7 linked regions of the Homo sapiens genome follow. The protein of the gene in region 3 interacts with the protein of the main gene of each other region in a pairwise test. Each region holds a gene or a part of one and is shown on either strand. Other genes may lie near its edges.

Evidence for each region.
Region 1: the proteins of GOLGA2 (region 3) and TSGA10IP interact in binary tests that used the Homo sapiens proteins (3 or more experiments, as listed by UniProt).
Region 2: the proteins of GOLGA2 (region 3) and MORN3 interact in binary tests that used the Homo sapiens proteins (3 or more experiments, as listed by UniProt).
Region 4: the proteins of GOLGA2 (region 3) and ZGPAT interact in binary tests that used the Homo sapiens proteins (3 or more experiments, as listed by UniProt).
Region 5: the proteins of GOLGA2 (region 3) and ZNF587 interact in binary tests that used the Homo sapiens proteins (3 or more experiments, as listed by UniProt).
Region 6: the proteins of GOLGA2 (region 3) and MFAP1 interact in binary tests that used the Homo sapiens proteins (3 or more experiments, as listed by UniProt).
Region 7: the proteins of GOLGA2 (region 3) and DLGAP5 interact in binary tests that used the Homo sapiens proteins (3 or more experiments, as listed by UniProt).

The regions. Positions count from the first base shown.
Region 1 is NC_000011.10:65,957,973-65,960,466, reverse strand, and holds the end of TSGA10IP (testis-specific protein 10-interacting protein), read right to left. Parts: intron 1,585-2,494; coding exon 1,485-1,584; intron 1,317-1,484; coding exon of another isoform or gene 1,278-1,316; coding exon 1,153-1,277; intron 651-1,152; coding exon 527-650; 3' UTR 501-526; downstream 1-500.
Region 2 is NC_000012.12:121,648,242-121,650,448, reverse strand, and holds the end of MORN3 (MORN repeat-containing protein 3), read left to right. Parts: 3' UTR 1-1,707; downstream 1,708-2,207. UniProt on the Homo sapiens protein: Assembles a suppression complex (suppresome) by tethering SIRT1 and MDM2 to regulate composite modifications of p53/TP53.
Region 3 is NC_000009.12:128,255,329-128,259,007, forward strand, and holds the end of GOLGA2 (golgin subfamily A member 2), read right to left. Parts: coding exon 3,679-3,679; intron 3,243-3,678; coding exon 3,127-3,242; intron 2,871-3,126; coding exon 2,652-2,870; intron 2,565-2,651; coding exon 2,462-2,564; intron 2,380-2,461; coding exon 2,273-2,379; intron 2,198-2,272; coding exon 2,041-2,197; intron 1,954-2,040; coding exon 1,739-1,953; 3' UTR 501-1,738; downstream 1-500. UniProt on the Homo sapiens protein: Peripheral membrane component of the cis-Golgi stack that acts as a membrane skeleton that maintains the structure of the Golgi apparatus, and as a vesicle thether that facilitates vesicle fusion to the Golgi membrane.
Region 4 is NC_000020.11:63,732,039-63,734,340, reverse strand, and holds part of ZGPAT (zinc finger CCCH-type with G patch domain-containing protein), read right to left. Parts: intron 1,123-2,302; coding exon 989-1,122; intron 755-988; coding exon 602-754; intron 1-601. UniProt on the Homo sapiens protein: Transcription repressor that specifically binds the 5'-GGAG[GA]A[GA]A-3' consensus sequence. Represses transcription by recruiting the chromatin multiprotein complex NuRD to target promoters.
Region 5 is NC_000019.10:57,859,859-57,862,737, reverse strand, and holds part of ZNF587 (zinc finger protein 587), read right to left. Parts: coding exon 2,598-2,879; 3' UTR 1-2,597. UniProt on the Homo sapiens protein: May be involved in transcriptional regulation.
Region 6 is NC_000015.10:43,811,191-43,814,690, forward strand, and holds part of MFAP1 (microfibrillar-associated protein 1), read right to left. Parts: intron 3,499-3,500; coding exon 3,311-3,498; intron 2,168-3,310; coding exon 2,059-2,167; intron 1,958-2,058; coding exon 1,797-1,957; intron 1-1,796. UniProt on the Homo sapiens protein: Involved in pre-mRNA splicing as a component of the spliceosome.
Region 7 is NC_000014.9:55,150,611-55,153,585, forward strand, and holds part of DLGAP5 (disks large-associated protein 5), read right to left. Parts: intron 2,038-2,975; coding exon 1,980-2,037; intron 1,332-1,979; coding exon 1,085-1,331; intron 239-1,084; coding exon 189-238; intron 1-188. UniProt on the Homo sapiens protein: Potential cell cycle regulator that may play a role in carcinogenesis of cancer cells. Mitotic phosphoprotein regulated by the ubiquitin-proteasome pathway.

The sequences.
Region 1 (2,494 bases), on a different chromosome or scaffold from region 3:
CATTGCACTCCGGCCTGGTGACAGAGCGAGACTCTGTCTTAAAAAAAAAAAAAAAAAGCGCAGTGCACACAATCCCAATCTCTCCTGAAACCCCTCCCCTCACCCAGTGGTTGCTCAGTCTGTGGCTCCCTGTGTGGCACAACTCAGCATGTGTTAGGCTATGTTGTATGCGCCCCTTTAAGGATCCACCCCCTCTCCCACTCACTGGGCGTCCTCAGAGGCAGGAGTCATTTCATCTTATTCATGCTTGAATTTATAGGACCCAACATATACATTGGAGATGGGGTGGAGAAGTCACAGCTCTTGCTCTTTGAGATGTCCCCACTCCTCAGGAGCAGAGAAGGGGCTGTGTGTACTGGGTGGGGGGAACCAAAAGAGCCAAAGCTCCTGGTGGGGAGGGGGTGCGGGGACAGAGCTAAGCCTGCTGCCCACCCACCTGCCACCTCCAACTTCCAACCCGTAGCTTCCACCACCCCCACCACCAGAAATCTCATACTGTGTTTGCCATAAAGCCTTTAATTTTATCTCAGGGACTGCACTCCGGGTCCAGGCTGGGGTTGTAGTGCCTGTCAGGCTGGCTGCCGGTGGGTTCTGTCCTTGGGGGCCTCTGAGGAGAGTGCTCCATTCTCACCCCCATTGACCTGTGGCTCCTTCAAGACACAGATAGAGGCCCCTGACTCTGCAGCTCCCACCCCCATGCCCAAGGAAACCACTGACAATGTGGCTTCAAACCCTGCTTCAGTGCCGGCTTGCTGTGTGATCCTGGGCAAAGTGACTCTTCTCGAGTCTCACTTTCCTTATTGTCAAGTGGGCTTCATAATCGCTGCTCTGTACCAGGTTATTCTAAGGCATGGGGTGACCAGCGTGGTGGTGCCAGCCCCTAATGAGGGACTTGGTGTGTGGCCGCTCAGATGGTTGCAGAGTCCCAGACTGGTTCTGCTGCTTGTTCGCTCCTGCGTCCTTAAAGAAGGCCCTTCCCCTCAGGTCCTTAGTTTCCTCATTGAGAAGTAGGAATGACAACCCTGGCCTTGCCTTCCTCTGGGCTCTCTGCCTGTCCTGGGGGAGGCCCTCCAGAGCCCAGAGTGCTGGTGTGGGCGCCCCTTCCCGCAGCAGCATGGCAGAGTCAGTTCTTGACCTGACGGGGAGACTCACCTGGGTTTCCTGGGGGTGCCCTCTCTGTCCACCTTTCCTGCCTCAGACAGCAGCTGCTCCTCATCCAGCCCCAGTGCTGACAGCACCTGGGAGAAGCGCCGAGTGACGGTGAGCCGGGCATTGGCCTGAGGAGAGAGAAGACGGCTTCCTGCTCTGCACCAGGGCTGCCGAGGGCAAGGTGGGGATCGGGTTACTGAGGGGGTCCCAGGGATTCCAGAGGGCAGCAGCCCTGGGATCCTATCTGCAGGGACCTACTCGCATCCTGCTTCCCTACCCACTCAGCCAGCTCTTCACAGGGGGCAGCTATGTGCTTGCCCAGGTGCCAGCCTCACCTGCATAGCCTGCTGGAACAGGAAGGGCCGGGCCTGCACCCTGTGCTGGATGCCTTGCAGCTCCGCCTGGTACTCAGCAAAGCGCTGTCGCTCCTGGCGCCTGCAGGGGAGACAGGCCTTTGTGCAGCTAACCATGGACACAACTGTTGATCTCCATTCCTGAGCCCGCTTATCTTCACTAAGGACTTGATATTCATGTCCTCACCCTCACCTTTACAAAGCTATTTCATTCCCATTCTTGCCTGGATTCCTTGTGAAGTCAGCCAAGGTGGAAATTATTCACCCAATTTACGGATGGATCGGGAGGGTTGAGGGACTTGTTCAAAGTTGTGCAGCTGGGAAGTGAGGGGCCGAGCCCTGTGCAGCTGGGGCTTGCCCATCCTCCTGTGCCAGCCCCATGGGAAAGGGGCCAGTGCTGGCTTCTGAGCTTCCAGACACGTGCTTACATAGCTTCCCCTCCCCATCCTCTTTCCCTTGAGGGGGAGCTGTGGTTGTTGGTTGTGTGACTTTGGGTGAGGCCTCTCTCTGGGCTCTTGGCTCTGGGCTCAGTTTATTTCACTGTGCTATAGTAGGGATCGGACAAGCTTGCCAGCATTCTCTGTGGTTCTTGTAAGCAGACAGCTTGGAAAATGGGACAGAGAAACTAAAAAAAAATATGTTTCAAATTTAAAAAACACACCCCTGAGAGATCAGGGTTCCACTGGGGAAGCACAATTTTCATTTATAAAAACCCAATTTGGCCAGGCGTGGTGGCTCGCACCTGTAATCCCAGCACTTTGGAAGGCCAAGGAGGGTGGATCACTTGAGCCCAAGAGTTTGAGACCAGACTGGGCAACATGGTGAAATCCTGTCTCTACAAAAATTAGCCAGACATGGTGGTATGCACCTGTAGTCCTGGGTAGTTGGGAGGCCAAGGTGGGAGGATCGCTTGAGCCTCGGAGGTCTAGGCTACAGTGAGCTGAGATTGTGCCACTGCACTCCAGCCTGGGCAACAGAGCAAGACCCTGTCT
Region 2 (2,207 bases), on a different chromosome or scaffold from region 3:
GTTCAAGCGATTATCCTGCCTCAGCCTCCCAAGTAGCTGGGATTACAGGCACCTGCCACCAAGGCTAATTTTTTGTATTTTTAGTAGAGACAGGGTTTCACCATGTTGGCCAGGACGGTCTCGATCTCCTGACCTCGTGATCTGCCCGCCTTGGACTCCCAAAGTGCTGGGATTACAGGTGTGAGCCACTGCTCCCAGCCAAGATCAGATGTTCTTGCATAATGGGCAGGTGAGCTCTGGAGTCACAGTGCCTGGGCGTGAATCTCGGAGCTGTGTGTTCTCAGGAATGTCACCCAAACTCTGTTCTGTTGGTCTCCTCACTTGCAATATGGGGCATTAACAGTACTTACCACCTGGGGTTACTGTGGTTAGTTACTGTGAGGATGAGATAAGGCGGTGGTTTTAAACTGTGGGTAGGATTTTGTCCTCCCTCAGCCCCACTCTTTCTTGGGGACATTTGGCAATGTATGACATTTTTGATGTCACAACAGGCAGGAAGAAGGCTACTGGCATTGAGTGAGTAGAGACCAGGGATGCGGTTAAGCATAGTGCAATATCACCATGCTACAAAAAAAAAAAAAAAAAAGAATTCAGCACCTGTAATCCCAACTACTTGGGAGGCTGAGGCAGGAGAATTGCTTGAACCTGGGTGGCAGAGGTTGCAGTGAGCCGAGATTGCGCCATTGCACTCCAGCCTGGGCGACAGAGCGAGACACCATCTCCAAAAAAAAAAAAAAAAAAAATGTTGAGAAACCCTGAAATACCACGATTCTAGCTAAGACCTCAGCAAGAGGCACATAGCACATAGTAAAGCCTCAATAAACACCACTGACCTTACTGAGGTTCTCTCTGCCCCCTAAGTCATAAGTAGGGTGGCCTCACCAAGGGTGTGGTTCTCAGTCTGTACCTCTGGCACTGGGAAGCCCCGCCTGGCCACCCTAGGATGCAGAATTAATCATAACTTCCAGATATGGAGCACTCACTCTATTCCAGGCCGTGTGCTGACAGCTTCGCAGCAAGCATTCTCTCCTGGCACTCCCCGACAACAGTGAGGTGTCTTGCTATTACTGCCATTTTAGAGGAGGAAACAGGTTCAGGGAGGATCACAAGTCATCAAGCTAGTACTGTGCTTAAACTTAGGTCTAGCTGTTCTTAATGTGCAGAAGAGTGTAAAGGGTTACCATTTTTAAAGAAAAAGTGGGGGCAGGGCATGGTGGCTCATGCCTGTAATCCTAGCACTTTGAGAGGCCGAGGCAGGCGGATCAAGAGGTCAGGAGTTCGAGACCAGCCTGACCAACATGGTGAAACCCTGTCTCTACTAAAAATACAAAAATTAGCTGGGTGTGGTGGAGTGCATCTATAATCCCAGCTACTCAGGAGGCTGAGGCAGGAGAATCACTTGAACCCAGGAGGCGGAGGTAGTGGTGAGCCAAGATCACGCCGAGCCGAGATCGTGCCGCTGCTCTCCAGCCTGGGCAACAGAGCGAGACTCCATCTCAAAAAAAAAAAAAATGTTGGAAGAGGGTGTGCTTGTTTATGTACAAAATGTCGCTAGATTTAAACACAATAAACTGGCAAAGATGGTTGTCTCTGGGGAGAATTGGGGACTTGGGAACAGGAGCTGAAGAACAACTTTTCAGTGTTGTGTTTGGAACCATGTGAATGTATTATGTATTCAAAATGTAAATAAAAATGAAGTTAAAGAGACTGTGCTCCTAACTAGGAGTGTTTGTCTAAGTTGCCTGGGTGTGAGAGCACCTGGGGTGCTTGTTAGAAATAGATTCCAAAGACACACCCAGACCTACTTAAATCAGAATCCTCCAAGGGCTTCGAAACCTGCATTTGACAAGCCTGGCTGATGAGTCGAGTCCCGGCCAGTTTAGGAACAAGAACCCAAGACAACAGGATCCTAGCCCAGAAATAATTCCAGCTGGATCTTGCATCCCTACAGAAGTAGGGAGGTGGCTGTCCTAGGGGAATACGTAAAAGATGTCCAGGACGGCCGGGTGCGGTAGCTCACGCCTGTAATCCCAGCACTTTGGGAGGCTGAGGCAGGTGGATCACCTGAGGTCAGGAGTTGGAAACCAGCCTGGCCAGTGTGGTGAAAGCCCATCTCTGCTAAAAATACAAAAATTAGCCGGGCGTGGTGGCTCATGCCTGTAGTCCCAGCTACTCGGGAGGCCGAGGCAGGAGAATCCCTTGAACCC
Region 3 (3,679 bases):
AAAAGACCACATCTTTTCCAAGGGACATTTTTCCTGGAAAGCCCCTGGAGCTTAGGGGGCTCTCATCCTGTGAAGCGGGCTCTGGCCACTAGGGGGCAGGGCCATTAACTCAGCCTGGAGGGCGCCGGCAGGGCGGCTGGCATTCTGGAGGGACAGACAGAACAGGCCACCAGGCTCAGGCAGGCGAGGGAGGCAGGGGGACAGAATGGAAGACACCTGGGCTGGATGGAAGTCAGTGCCCTTGGGTGCTGGCATCCTGTCTTCCTGGCCACCGCTAGATCAGGCTTCTGAGCCTGTTGGCCATCGGGGCCAAACTGTCCCCATAGGTACCATGGTAGTCCCCGTGTAATCCCCAAGATGTCACCAGGCAGCATACAGGTAACAAGCCTGGAAGGTCCCAACAGCCCAGCTGCACATGCTCAGACACTCTGGGGCTCCCTGTTCAGTGGCACAAACTCCAGGACCCAGTGAGAGAAACAGGAACACATCAGGCAGAGCAGTATGGCTAAATCCATTTATTCCGAAATAAAAAGCAAAATAAACAGGAGTCGCATCACCAGGGCGCCACGACCCCATCCCCGCCTCCTTCCTCTGTCCTATGCTATCAATAAATAAGTTTCCCAGCCCCAAATAATTATTAGAACCTCCTCCCCATGTGCCAGCTCCAACCTCTGCTAGGTATGATACAGGGGGCGGCCCTACCCCTGGAATATACAAAATGTTACACAGATACAATATGTACACTGGGGAAGCAGGGCCACCCCAGCAGCCCGTGCCCTCGCCTGGTCTACAGTTAGCCCCACTGTCCTGCCTCAGCTGCCTCTCTGTGTAAGAAGATGGGAGCCCCCCTGAGGGAAAAATTGCTTTGGTGAGAGTAAGGAGGCCATGAGGCCTCTTCCAAAGAGGCCAATTATATGAGCCTCTGGCTATTAAATAACAATCATCATCATCCAGAAATTTAAGGAGTCAGCCCTGGCCAAGGTGGCTAAGGGTCTACACATTTGTCTCCCCCCATTAGACAGGGGTCTTATTTGCTACTGTAAGAGTAAAGGGATGACTGGGAAGGGGTGGCAGGCACATGATGGGGGCGGAGCCTCCGGCCCCACTTCTCCAGGCTTTGCTGACAGTGGCCTGCTTTTTAAAATTTTTATCCTGACTTTCTTTAATCCCATAACTTTTTTCATAATTTTTTTTTTTTTTGAGACAGAGTCTCACTCTGTCGCCCAGGCTGGAGTGCAATGGCGTGATCTCAGCCCACTGCAACCTCCACCTCCCAGGTTCAAGCGATTCTCCTGCCTCAGCCTCCCGAGTAGCTGGGATTACAGGCACGTGCCACCATGCCTGGCTAATTTTTGTATTTTTAGTAGAGACACAGTTTCACCATGTTGACCAGGCTGGTCTTGAACTCCCAACCTCAGCCTCCCAAAAGTGCTGGGATTACAGGCGTGAGCCACTGCACCTGGCCTTTTTTCATAACTTTTATACCATAAGTTACCCATAACCTTTTTTATCCCATAACTTTTTTTAATCCCATAACTTTTAATTTTTTTTTAATTTAGTGGCCAGCTTTTAGATGACAGTGATCTTCACCTCATCTGCACCTGTCTACCCCCGTTAGACAGGGGTCTATGCTTGCTACTGTAAGGGTAAAGGGTTGACTGAGAAGGGATGGTAGGGATATGGTGGGGGCAGGGTATCCAGCCCCACTTCTTCAGGCTTTGCTGACAGTAGCCGGCTTTTAGATGACAGTGATCTTCACCTCATCATTCTCGTCAGCCCGGTAAAAAAAAGGAATGCAGGGGTTGCTGCCCAAGCCTGGGCGCTCCCGGGGGTTCTGCATCTCACGAAGCAGCTGCATGATCTGCTGTGCAGTGGGGTTGTCACGGGGAGAACCCTCCCTGGCCTCTCCTTGGGCAGGCTCCACACTGCCGGCGAGGCTCACCTCGCAAAGATCTTTGGAGAGAGAGAGGCAGGGCTCTGAGTGCCACGCGAGCCCTCCCTTACTCCTGCCTGCCCACCCCTCCCGAGGGCTCTACTCACCACCCTGCTGGTTGGCAGCCCCAAGTTCCTGGGGGGCTGGGGCCCCTGAAGTGGGCTCATCAGCAGGGTTCTGGGCAGCTGCCAGGAATCTGCCATGCCACTCGTTGCGGTCGCCCACAAGCCGTAAGACCAGCTCCTGCAGCTCCAGCAGCTTCACCTGGAGGGAGGGGTGCTAAGCTGCCATGCCCATGCCCGTGCCCACCTCCACCCCCAGAGATGTTCCACACCCTACCTTCATCTCCTCCTTGTCTTGGGCCAGCCTGCTGATGTACTCCTCCTTCTCCCGGTGCCGCTCCTTCAGCACTGCCCTCTGGCTCTGGTACAGTGCAATGTACTCTCCTGCGGGAGGACAGGGCTCAGATGCTGGGTTCCCTCCGACCGCTGTGCAGCTCCTCCTGCCGTGCCCTGGCCTCCCACTCACCAATGGTGTCTGTCTCTCCAGAAAGCTGGATGCAGCGATGTTCCAGTTCCTCTACCCTCTCCTTCAGGTCTGCCTTCTCCTGCATGAGCTCCATAAAGCGGCTCTGGAACCAAAATAATGGAGTCATATATCGGCAGCGACCTGCCCCGCCCCCACCCTTCTTGACCCATGCCAGGAGAGACTCATTCACCTGCAGCTTCTCCATGGCCCCCTGCAGGGCCCGGTGGGTCTCCCCACACACAGAATCACCCCCGGTCCCTGGGGCTGGGGCTGCTGCCTCAGGCTCCTTCTGGGCCGAGGCCAGCAGGTGAGCCAGGCGCCGGCAGCGCACCCTTTGCTCCTTCAGCTGCCCACGTAGCCTTGCCTGCTCCTCCTCGGCACTGGCTACAGCTGAGTTGAAAAATGCCACCTGCAGGCAAGAGGGGTGCATTCTTGTAGGAGGATATATAGGATGAACAGGGCAGGGAGGTAGAGAGCAGCCCTTCCCTTGGGGCCTCAGAGGGTGCACTTGTTGGTCCCAAGTGAAATGGTGTCTCACCACTGGCTCCCAGGAAAGGGGTGAGGGTCCGAAGAAATCAGAAGGCCGGGAAACCAAGAGCAGAAGGGGGTCTGGGAGGGACCACAGAGGGAGGCAGCAAAGGTTGGGGAGGGGGAGTCAGCCTCACCATGGCTTCCCGGCTCTCCAGGTCCTCCGGGATGCTTGGCATGGGCTGAGGTACTGCCACCGCCTCCTCCTCCTCCTCCTCCTCATCCTCCTCCTCCTCCCGGTCCAGTCCATCTCCTATGGGGGTGGCCAGAGGGGTCATCAGACAACCCAACAAGGGTACAGTGGGCCCACCTCTGCCCCCACCCTCACTGTGTAACCCTGGGCCAGCCCCTCCCCAGAGGGAAATAAGCATCTGTTCTTTATTTTTATTTTATTCTTTTTTAAGAGCCAAGGGCTCGCTATGCTGCCCAGGTGCAGTCCCACTACCGATCAGCATGGGAGTTCTGACCTGCTTCATTTCTGACCTGGGCCAGTTCACCCATCCTTAGGTAAGCTGGTAGTGCCCTGCTCCCAGGAAGTCACCATATTGATGCCGAACTTAGTGTGGACACCCAGTTGGCATAATGACCAGCTGTTCTAAAGGTCTCTTCCAACTCCTCAATTCTACGCTGCTAACAGTCCCCCCTTCTTCCTGGGGCTCTCTCCTCTTCCTGTGAGCAGGTTCCCGTACC
Region 4 (2,302 bases), on a different chromosome or scaffold from region 3:
ACCAGGGACATGGGGCTTCAGAAACCACCATCACTGATCCCTGGGTACACCTCCAACATGCAGACCCCTCCTGGACTCAGCCCGCCATGCTTGGGTCAGGTGACCTCCCACATATATACACACACACGCACACGCATACACACACCCCTCTGGAGAGCTGGACACTGCCCACCAGTTCCCATTCCCGAAACTTCCATGCTGGCTGTCTGGACACAACCTCTGTCTGCCAGGATCCCAGGCACCCAGGTCCCAAGTCTGAGAAGCCATGCAGAGGAGCTGCCCCTCCTGCACTCCAGGCCCCATCAGTTGGTCATTTTCTGTGACTTCCTCGGCAACTCCAGGCCCCTCCTCTCCCATGGCCACAGCCACGACCATGGCCTCCCATCAATGAGACTGTAGCTGTTGCACCCACACTCCTTGAAGATAAAGGCCGCCACGGATCTACCCCTACCCACACGGCCTCCTCAGGCACAGGTGGCACCCTCGCCGCAGTCACACACTCTCCAATAGTTTGGTTAGATGGTTGGTGCCCTCACCGGCCAGGAGCCTCTCAGGGTGACCCCACCTTCCTGGCTCCTGGGCTCCGCAGCTGCTGCCATACCTCTGGCATAGCTGGAGTCACCCGTACCGTCGCTGTCTGAGTCGGACTCTGTGGCCTCTGTGCGCAGTGGGGGCAGGATGCCGTCCCCCTCCACCACGGCCTCCCTCAGCAGCAGCGAGTCAAACTTGACTGTGTAGTAGCCGTTGTCCACATCTGGGGGCAGAGACAAGCTGCAGGTCAGAATCCTTGACAGCAGGTGCCACTGAAGGGAACCACCCTGGACATGAGGAGCAAGGCAGGGCAGAGGCTGAGGGTAGGTGTGCTCATTTCGGGCCCAGAGCCAGAGTCCCGACACTCAACCCAAAGGAAGCAGGGAGCAGCCACACAGTGACAACACACGTGGGGCCTGGGAGGGTGTTCCCGGGAGGCCCCCACGGCCAGCCTCACCGGTGATGCGTGCTGCGTGCCAGAGGCCATCCTGGTGCTTGGCCAGACACGCAGAGCCGGCCTGCAGGGAGCTCAGGTCTGGGTCCTGGAAGGGGCGCAGCTCATCCAGAGAGACCACCTGCCCATGGGAGAACCTGCAGACAGAGCCGTAAGGGGCAGGGCTCAGACATGGGCCACCAGGGGCAAACCAACCCAGGAGCACTGACCCATCCGCCTGGGCACTGTCCTGAGGGAGACAGACACACACGCGTGCGTATACATACACACTCTCACACACTCACGCACACACATACACACGCACACATACACACACACATGCACACACTCACGCACACATACACACATGCACATATACACACGCACATACAGATACACATGCACACATACACTCACACATACACATATATACACACTTGTGCATATACATGCAGGCATATACACACACATGCATATACACACGTACACATACACGCATACGCACACGCGCATATACACATGTACACACACATGCACTCACACAGGCACACACAAGTACACATACACACGCATAAACATGCACTCACATGCATACACACACGCATATACATACGTACACAGGCATACACACACATATACAGACATACACATATACACATACACAAGTACACATGTATACACATGCATACACACATGCACACAGGCATATACACATGTACACACACATTAACACATGTACTCACACGTCATACACATACACAGAGACCCTGACACGCGTATAAACATGCACTCACACATGAACTCATGCAAATACAGATGCAGTCATACATGGATATACGCACACGCCATCTCACCCACACGCGCGCACACGTGCCCTCACCCACACACATACGCCCTCACCCACACACATGCGCACACAAGCACCCTTACCTACACACATGCGCACACATCTCTCACCCACACACACGCACACACAGGCCCTCACCCACACACATGCGCGCACACACACCCTGACACATGCACACACACACCTCACCCACACACGTGCACACACATGCCCCCTCACCCACACACATGCACACACACACGCCCTCACCCACACACATGCGACCTCTCATCCACACACACGTGCACGCACACATGCACCCGCACCCAAACATGCACACACAGATGCACCCGCACCCACACATGCACACACATATGCAGTCACCCACACGCGCACACACATGCACCCTCACGTGTAGACTGTCACGTGCACTCACTCATATATGCATATACACATACATGCACACACATGGCATGCATATACACACATGCATATACACACTCACACTTGCA
Region 5 (2,879 bases), on a different chromosome or scaffold from region 3:
CAGTGTCCCAGATAATCTTCTTCTGATTGGGACATTTCCCTGGGAACAGTGGTTACTTGCCAAATTCACATTTACGGCCAAAACTGTGGCTGCAGTGTCGACATTCATGCAAGTGGGGAAATGGGCATGTGACCCCTGAAAAAAGATTCTGGATTCCATAATCTCACCTTGCTGAGAAGAAACTGCCATTTCAGCAGAAAGTGCAATGACAGTTTCTGCACAGGGACTGGAGATTATCTCTAGAAAAGAGCTTGGAGTGAGGAAATTAGTTAATGTGGATGAATGACGTTACCCATGGAGAATGAAGTAAGTAGCTAGAAGACAAAAGCCTCAGAACACATAAATCTCAATGGGTATTGAGTAGAGGACTCAGAGCTCTGAGATAATTGGAGCTCATGGCTATCCTAGAACTTGGATAACATAAAGTTCTTGTTTCTACAAAGTGTGTATCCTTTCCATATGTGAGAACTGTGAGGAAGTACAAACTTGGAACAAAAGAAATAGTAAGGTAATCTTAGAAAGATGTTGAAAAGAAAGCTATGGTGGCATCTTAACTGTTTCACTGCCTGGCAATCTATATGTATTGTCACTTTGGGACGCTTATGATTCCACATGAAGTGGATAACCAGCTCATAGTTCTTGTGGTACTGAAAACCAAGTATTCAGCCAGGTACAGTGGCTGACACCTGTAATCCCAGCACTTTGGGAGGCCGAGGCAGGTGGATCACTTGAGCTCAGAAGGTAGAGAGCAGCCTGGGTAACATGGTGAAACCCCATCTCTACTAAAATAAATAAATAAAATTAGCCAGGTATAATGGCACATGCCTGTAGTCCCAGCTACTCAGGAGGCTGAGGCAGAATCGCTTGAACACAGGAGGTGGAGGTTGCAGTGGGCCGAGATCATGCCACTTCACTGTAGCTTAGGAGACAGAGCTAGACTCCATCTGGAAAAAAAAAAAAAAAAGAAAACCAAATATTCCTTGCAGCAAAGTGACATCACTGAAGAATGAATGAAGTCCAACATACGTCTTTGTTATTTCATTATTTTTAAATATATTAATGAAATGGGAAATAGATAAAATTCATTTTAAAAAACAAGCCTACAGGTGAGGCCAGGCAGGGTGCCTCACCCCTGTAGACCAAGCACTTTTGGAGCCTAGGCAAGTGGATCGCCTGAGCCCAGGAGTTCGCGATCAGACTGGGCAAAAAGGTAAAACCCTCTCTACAGAAAATACAAAAGTTATCCAGTTGTGGTGGTGCATACCTGTATTTCCAGCTACTCTGGAGGCTGAGGTGGGCAGAGTGCTTGAGCCCAGGAAGCAGAGGTTGCAATGAGCTGAGATTGTGCCACGGTACTCTAGCCTGGGAGACAGAGCGAGACTTTGTCTCAAAACAAAAAAAATGCAAAACATAAACCACTGACTCAAAAGTTATAACCACTTATTAAAATAATAAACAATTTCAAATACTAACCATACTCCCTCTTGGTAAGATAGAACAGAAATTCTTGGACACTGATGGTAGATAGATATACAAATGAGCAATAATTTCATTCTTAAGTCATAGTTTGGCATTGCTTAAAAAGTTGTACATTAGGCCAAGCACAGTAGGTCACACCTGAGAAGCTGAGGCAGGCAGATCACTTGAGGTCAGTTCATAACAAGCCTGGCCAGCATGGTGAAACCCCATTGCTAATAGAAATAAAAAAAAAAGTTATCCAGGCATGGTGGTGCACACCGGTAATCCCTGCTACTCGGGAGGCTGAGGCAGAAGAATCAGTTGAACTTGGGAGGCAGAGGTTGCAGTGAGCCGAAATCATGCCACCTAACTCCCGCCTGGGTGACAGAGTGAGACTCTGTCTCAAAAAAGAGTTGTACTTTAATCTATCACGTGACTCAGGCACTGCACACCACCATATTACCATAGTGAAACATACCTACATGAACAACTGCATTCAAATATAGCAGTTTCATTTATAACAGACAAAAACAAGAAGCATGTCATTCTTTTTTCTTTTTGTAGAGAGGAGGTCTGGCTATGTTGCCCAGGCTGATCTCTAACTCCTGGCCTCCAATGAACCACCTTGTCCTCCCAAAGCATCAGGTTTACAAGCATGAGCCACCATGCCTGGTTCAGCATGTCATATTCTAAGCAATACGAAAAGAATGAAGGCCAGGTGCAGAGGCTCATGCCTGTAATTTCAGCACTTTGGGAGTCAAGGTGGGTGGATCACTTGAGGTCAGGAGTTTGAGACCAGCCTGGCCAACATGGTAAAACCCCATCTCCACTAAAAACACAAAAATTAGCTGGGCGTGGTGGTGTGTACTCATAATCCCAGCTACTCAGGAGGCTGAGGTAGGAGGATTGCATGAACCCAGGAGGCCCAAGTTGCAGCGAGCCAAGACTGCACCACTGCACTCCAGCCTGGGTGACAGAACAAGACTCCATCTCAACACGAAGTCGCTTAAGACCGAGGACAGCAGACATTCTGATGTTTTCCACATTGACAGCACTCATAAGGCCTTTCTCCAGTATGAACTCTCCTGTGTTTAACGAGACGGGATGCTTCAGCAAACGATTTCCCATATTCACTGCACTCATAAGGCCTTTCTCCTGTGTGAACTCTGATGATGAAGGAGGGTAGAGCTTCGCTGAAATGTTTTTCCACATTTGGTGCATTCATAAGGCCTTTCTCCAGTGTGAATTCTCCTGTGTTTAATGAGACTGGAACATTCAGAAAAGGATTTTCCACATTCACTGCACTTATAAGGCTTTTGTCCAGAATGAACTCTTTTATGAACATGAAGCGCAGAGCTGGAAAGAAATGATTTCCCACATTCACTGCATTCATACGGCCTTTCTCCAGTGTGAATCCTCTG
Region 6 (3,500 bases), on a different chromosome or scaffold from region 3:
GATCACCTGAAGTCAGGAGTTCAAGGCCAGCCTGGCCGACATGGTGAAAACCCACCTCTACTAAAAATACAAAAATTAGCTGGGCGTGGTGGCATATACCTGTAGTCCCAGCTACGCAGGAGGCTGAGGCAGGAGAACCGCTTGACTCCCAGGGGGTGGAGGTTGTAGTGAGCCAAGATTGCGCCACTGCACTCCAGCCTGGGCGACAGAGTGAGACTGTGTCTCAAAAAAAAAAAAAAAACCAAAAACAAAAAATTACAGGCTGAGTATGGAGTTATCTACTGTGTGTAGCTCATACTCAGGCAAGTTTTCTTTTTTTCTTTTTTTTTTTTTTCCAGATAGAGTCTCACTCTGTCACCTAGGCTGGAGTGCAGTGGCACGATCTCAGCTCACCGCAACCTCTGCCTGCCGGGTTCAAGCGATTCTCTTGCCTCCGCCTCCCGAGTAGCTGGGAATAACAGGCACACACCACCACACCCAGCTAATTTTTGTATTTTAGTAGAGATAGGTTTTCACCATGTTGGCCAAGCTGGTCTTGAACTCTCAGCCTGAAGTGATTCGCCTGCCTCAGCCACCCAAAGTGCTGGGATTATGGGTGTGAGCCATCACGCCCAGCCTAGAGTTATCTATTGATGGTTTCCTTTGTAATCTGGGATTACCCTCTCATACCTAGTAATTTACAGGAATGAGTGATGCAGCTCAGAAATGATTCTGCTGGGGCCGGGCATGATGGCTCATGCCATAATCCCAGCACTTTGGGAGGCCGAGTTGGGTGGACAACCTGAGATCATGAGTTCGAGACCAGCCTGACCAACATGGTGAAACCCTGTCTGTACTAAAAATACGAAAATTAGCCAGGCATGGTGGCGCATGCCTGTAATCCCAGCTACTTGGGAGGCTGAGGCAGGAAAATCACTTGAACCTGGCAGGCGGAGGCTGCAGTGAGCTGAGATTGTGACACTTCACTGCAGCCTGGGTGAAAAGTGAAACTTCATGTCAAAAAAAAAAAAAAAAGATTCTGCTCTAACACAGTGTAGATTATTTAAGTGCCACAAATTCTTCCCCTCACAGTATGTATGCCCCTTTTCAAAAAGTATGACTTTGCTGCTCCTCCTCTGCAGAGGTGGAGTCTGTTTCTCCACCTGCTTAAAGCTAGGTTGGCCTTGTGACTTGCTTTGACCAGTATGTGGCAAGATCGATGTATGAGTTCTGGAACCGACATGTCAGAAGACCTTGCCCTCTTAGAATGGTGCCCTGAGACTGCTATGTAAGGAAGCCAGTCTAATCCAGTGAAGGATAAGTGAGGTATCCTAACTGATAGCCACCACCTACTACTAACATGTGAGTGAAGCCCTTTTAAGTTTCCAGCCCAGTCAACCTTCCAGCTGGATGCAACTACATAAGTAAGCCCAGGTGAAATCAGTAGAGGAACTGTTCAGCCAACCTCCAAAGTTGTGAAAAGTAATAAATTATAGTTTCAAGTCACTCAATTGTGGGTTGGGTTGTACACAAGAAGAGATAACTACTAACAGTTACTAATTTTTGTGTCTACTAGGAAACTAAAGGGAGCACTGGCTGGCACTCTATTATGGACACACATCGACAAAGTGTTTTTCTCTTCCCTGATTTCACTGTAGCAAGTGAAACTCATATTCCAATTATAGGAAACTCACAAAGCAACAAGAACTCTGAAGGTGGCTAGAATGGAACTCACAGTAGGTAATGAGTCTCAGAGCTATCCTGCTAGAAACCTGTTCCATTAGCAGCATTAACTCTAGGCTCATCTTTTTACTCACGCTTCTCGATCTTCTCTGTCCCTCTTGATTCTTTTTAGCTCTCGAACTTTCCATGCCTCATATTCCTCCTCATCATTTTCATCATCAGTATTGAGTGCATCCAATGCAGCCAGGGATCGCTTGTTCTCTTCCAGCTCTTTTTTGGTTTCCTCTTCGACAATCTGGATAGGGAGAACAATTCAGCTTGGACTTCCTTACTCTCCTCAGACAAACCTGATTACACTATTTCTTGTACTCATTCCTTGCAACCACTCCCCAGTACCTTGAGTGTGTACTTGCGCCTTTCCTCAGCCATGCGTTTTGCTTCCTGCTCCAGCTCCTTCTGTTTCAATGCTTCGGCTTCACGTTCTTGAACTGTCACTCGGTCCTTCCTGCATCACAGAGATCCTGTTAATTGCCCAAAGTCCTTAGAGTGGAGTGCTTTGTTCCCCTAGACCTAGTCCCATCCAAATCAGACAAAAACCAAACAATCTTTGGCTCTATTATTTTCAAAGAGCAAAAAACGCTGAGTCATCCCAGGTCTTTTTTTTTTTTTTTTTTTTTGAGACGGAGTCTCACTTGTCGCCTAGGCTGCAGTGCAGTGGTGTGATCTTGGCTCACTGCAACCTCCGCCTCCTGGGTTCAAGCAATTCTCTGCCTCAGCCTCCTGAGTAGCTGGGATTACAAGAGTCTGCCACCACACCTGATTAATTTCTTTGTATTTTTAGTAGAGATGGGGTTTCACCATCTTGGCTAGGCTGGTCTTGAACTCCTGACCTCCTGATCCACCTACCTCAGCCTCCCAAAGTGCTGGGATTACAGTCGTGAGCCACCGTGCCCAGCCATCATCCCAGGTCTTTAGAGGACTAAAATCATGTTCATCTTTGAGAACTGCCTAGACAGCAAAGAACCTGCTGGCCTCTAAGCAGTAGGATTTCTAGCCATCAGGAAAGGAATAGGAATTTGCTCGTTGAGTTTAATTTTGTGCTTAAAAATATATGGCCTTGGCTTGGTGCCGTGGCTCATGCCTGTAATCCTAGCACTTTGGGAGGCTGAGGAGGACGGATCACCTGAGGTTGGGAGTTCGAGACCAGCCTGACCAACATGGAAAAACCCCCTCTCTACTAAAAATACAAAATTAGCCAGGCGTGGTGGCGCATGCCTGTAATCCCAGCTACTCGGGAGACAGAGGCAGAACTGCTTGAAACCAGGAGGTGGAGGTTGTGGTGAGCCGAGATCATGCCATTGCACTCCAGCCTGGGCAACAAGAGCGAAACTCTGTCTCAAACAAACAAAAAAAGGCCTTGGACAGATATATGCTCTATTACTGAAAAAAGAGATGTGAAAACAAACTCAGGTTCTCTGCTAACGCCAAGATATTCCTCAGCAGCTAGTCTGCCAAGGGTAGAGCACTAGCAAAAGCACTTTCACTCAGCGTTTAGATTTCAGAATAGCAAGACAGAAAACAGACTTTTGTCTCCAGGCCTGGAAAGTGGTAATTAAGTGGATTCAGATCTGGCTTGTGAGATACTTACTTTCGAATGAAGACTGGCTTAAGGCGAGGCTCCATCTCATCTTCACTGTCTGTGTACTCTTCATACTCAGACTCTGATTCTGACTCCTCTCCAGAACGACCCTCATCTTCCACTTCCATGACTTCCATCTCTTCATTTTTTCTCTCCTGTGCTCGCTGACGCATCATGCCACGCCGCCGCTCTATTTCCT
Region 7 (2,975 bases), on a different chromosome or scaffold from region 3:
ATTAAAACATACTATATTTTAAAGTATATAAACACCAAATTTTTCTTCATTCTGTGAAAAATGAAGAGTGAGTAAGCAAAACAATGACAAGATATACATTTTAAGCCTTGTACACAAATAGAAAAGCAATATTCATTTTATAAAACAAATCTAGAATATAAAGGGACTTGTCAAGTTGGAAAACTTACTGAATCAAGAAGGTGGCATTCAGTAGTGAGACTTTTATTATCAAATAGTTCTGAAAAACAACAAAAAAAAACTTTTTAAAGAATATTCTCACATTCGAGGGCTGTTAGAAATGGACAAAGCCATGAAAAATATGAAAAGTTCCACATATCAAATGCTAAGACAAAAATATAGACCCCTATGCTATAATGTTTTTTGAAAGTAGTTAAATTCTTATCCTTAACTTTGGTATAAAAGCAGACTTCTGTAAACAAATCTCATGCTTGTAACATTAAAGGTACCCAGAAAATGCTGATGAAGAACAGCTGGAGGACATTAAATGTCTGGCCGAGGTTAAAACCTTTTGTTTTACCATAGGCCCCAGTTAGACCAGCTACAGACTAACTGATGAAAATGGCAGGTAAAACTGGCACACATTATAACAAAAATATAGGAGCCATTTCCTATTGCAGAACCATCACAACAATATAGGTAGAACTAGGCAGTAGGGAAGAAAAATAGGATATTTTGAAGAAAGACTTGGGGATATGTGTTGAAAAGGACAACTAAAAAAAAAGCCCAGGCTGGCCAATGTGGTGAAACTCTGTCTCTACTAAAAATAAAAAAATTAGCTAGGCGCGGTGGTACATGTGTAGGAGAATCGCCTCAACCTGGGAGGTGGAGGTTGCAGTGAGCTGAGATCACACGACTACACTCCAGCCTGGGCAACAGAGTGAGACTCCATCTCAAAAAAAAAAAAAATCTTGAGGGAATTGTTCTAATTCAGGGTCTTCACTAACAATGAAGGATCCTCAATAGTTAGATCTAATGTAAAATGGACCTTATAGGATAATTTATACCTTAATCCAAGTTCATTTCTTTAATAAAGGCTCGTTTAAATATATTTTAAATATCTCACCTGACTGAGAAATTTTAGTTTCCCCTTCTTCTAAGATGCTATTTTGTGAAGCTGTATTTTTTTCAGGGCTACTCATCAAAACATCCTGTGATGTAATTGAAGAATTCAGTTCCATTCCTTCCACAACATCTGAAATTCCTTCTTTTTTGTTAGTATTAATATCATCTGCTACTCCACCAGCAAGAAGAGGCAAACTCATTCTCTCACTGGATAAACAATCCACCTTCAAGTCTGTCTTATTTACAACCTGGAAGTAAAAATGGCATTATATTTAATTATCAATTTAATTACTTGGAACAAATTTTAAAAGTCTTGTTGCTATTAAATACAAGAAAAACAGAAGGATGACATCCCGGACACAGTCTTAAGAACATTATAAATCCTACTATCCTGCTTCTTCAACAATTAGTTCAGATAATATTATAGAAATAGTATGATTGAAGGCAAGTTTCTCAGCAAGTACCTATACTCTAGCTCAGGGACTGGCAAACATTTTCTGTAAAAGATCAAATAGTAAATATTTTAGGTTTGTGAGTCACAGGGTCTCTGTCATAAGTACTCAACTCTACCACTGTATTGCAAAAGCAGCCAGATAGAATACATAAACAAATGTGTGGCTATTACAATAAAATATGATTTGTAAAAATAGGGGCCAAAGTTTGCTGATTTCTGCTCTAGTTCACTGGTTCCATATTCATTCTGATATGAGTTGAAGAATACAAAATGACACTATGGTTTTAAACAACCCAAATGTCATTGAAACAAGAACTACAATTCTACATGACTGATTTAGATTTCCAACGGAAATTCTGGGGATGCTTTACAAAGTTACTTTCTATAATGATATAAACATATGACATACTGGGCTATCTAACCACACTGGAATTGTACTTACATGATTTTCTTCAATTAAATCTGGTAATCCAGGACACTGAGCATCTTCTATGCTGCTCCTAAAGAAGAAAAAAAGCAGCATTACACTCATAAACATATTGTTATTGTTTCACTTGTATTTTGAGTCTTTCCTTTAATGATGGCAATTAGTTTAGGGAATGGATCAAACATGGAGCCTGGTGCAAGATCAGGCGTGATCCAGATAGATTAGTTTTGGACTATAGCTACTGCAGGATGGCCTTACAAACTAAATGCATTCTTCCCCAGAAAGCTCACAAGTCTGTTACCATGGTGGTCAGTCAGGGTCAGGTGGCTCTACCAGCAATACTCTGAATCTCAGCCAAATCCAGAGCTATATATTAAAGAAAAGTCAAAAAGAAGGTGACTTCTGGAGACAGAAGCAACAATTCAATTATTGTCTAGCTGGAGTTAGCTACATTTACTCGTTACTTGTTAATCCAGGTACCTGCTAAGAAACTTGACTTCAATCATACTATTTCTATAATTTTATCCGAAAGTTCAAAAAGCGGAACAGGAGTTACAATGTTCTTAAGTCTGCTGCTTGTTAACAAGTAAATGTAGCTAACTCCAGCTAGACAATAATTGAGTTAGAATACAAGGTATTCTAATCCTGAAGTTACTAGCTTGTATCTTATTAGAAATATCTGTTTTGGCCAGGCGCCTTGGCTCACGCCTGTAATCCCAGCACTTGGGAGGCAGCGGCGGGTGGATCACGAGGTCAGGAGATTGAGACCATCCTGGCTAACATGGTGAAACCCCGTCTCTACTAAAAATACAAAAAATTAGCTGGGCGTGGTGACATGCGCCTGTAGTCCCAGCTACTTGGGAGGCTGAGGCAGGAGAATCACTTGAACCTGGGAGGCGGAGGTTGCAGTGAGCCGAGGTAGTGCCACTGCACTCCAGCCTCAGCAACAGAGCGACACTCCGTCTCAAAAAAAAAAAAAAAATTTATCTCCACTTCTTTCAAGTTACTTTT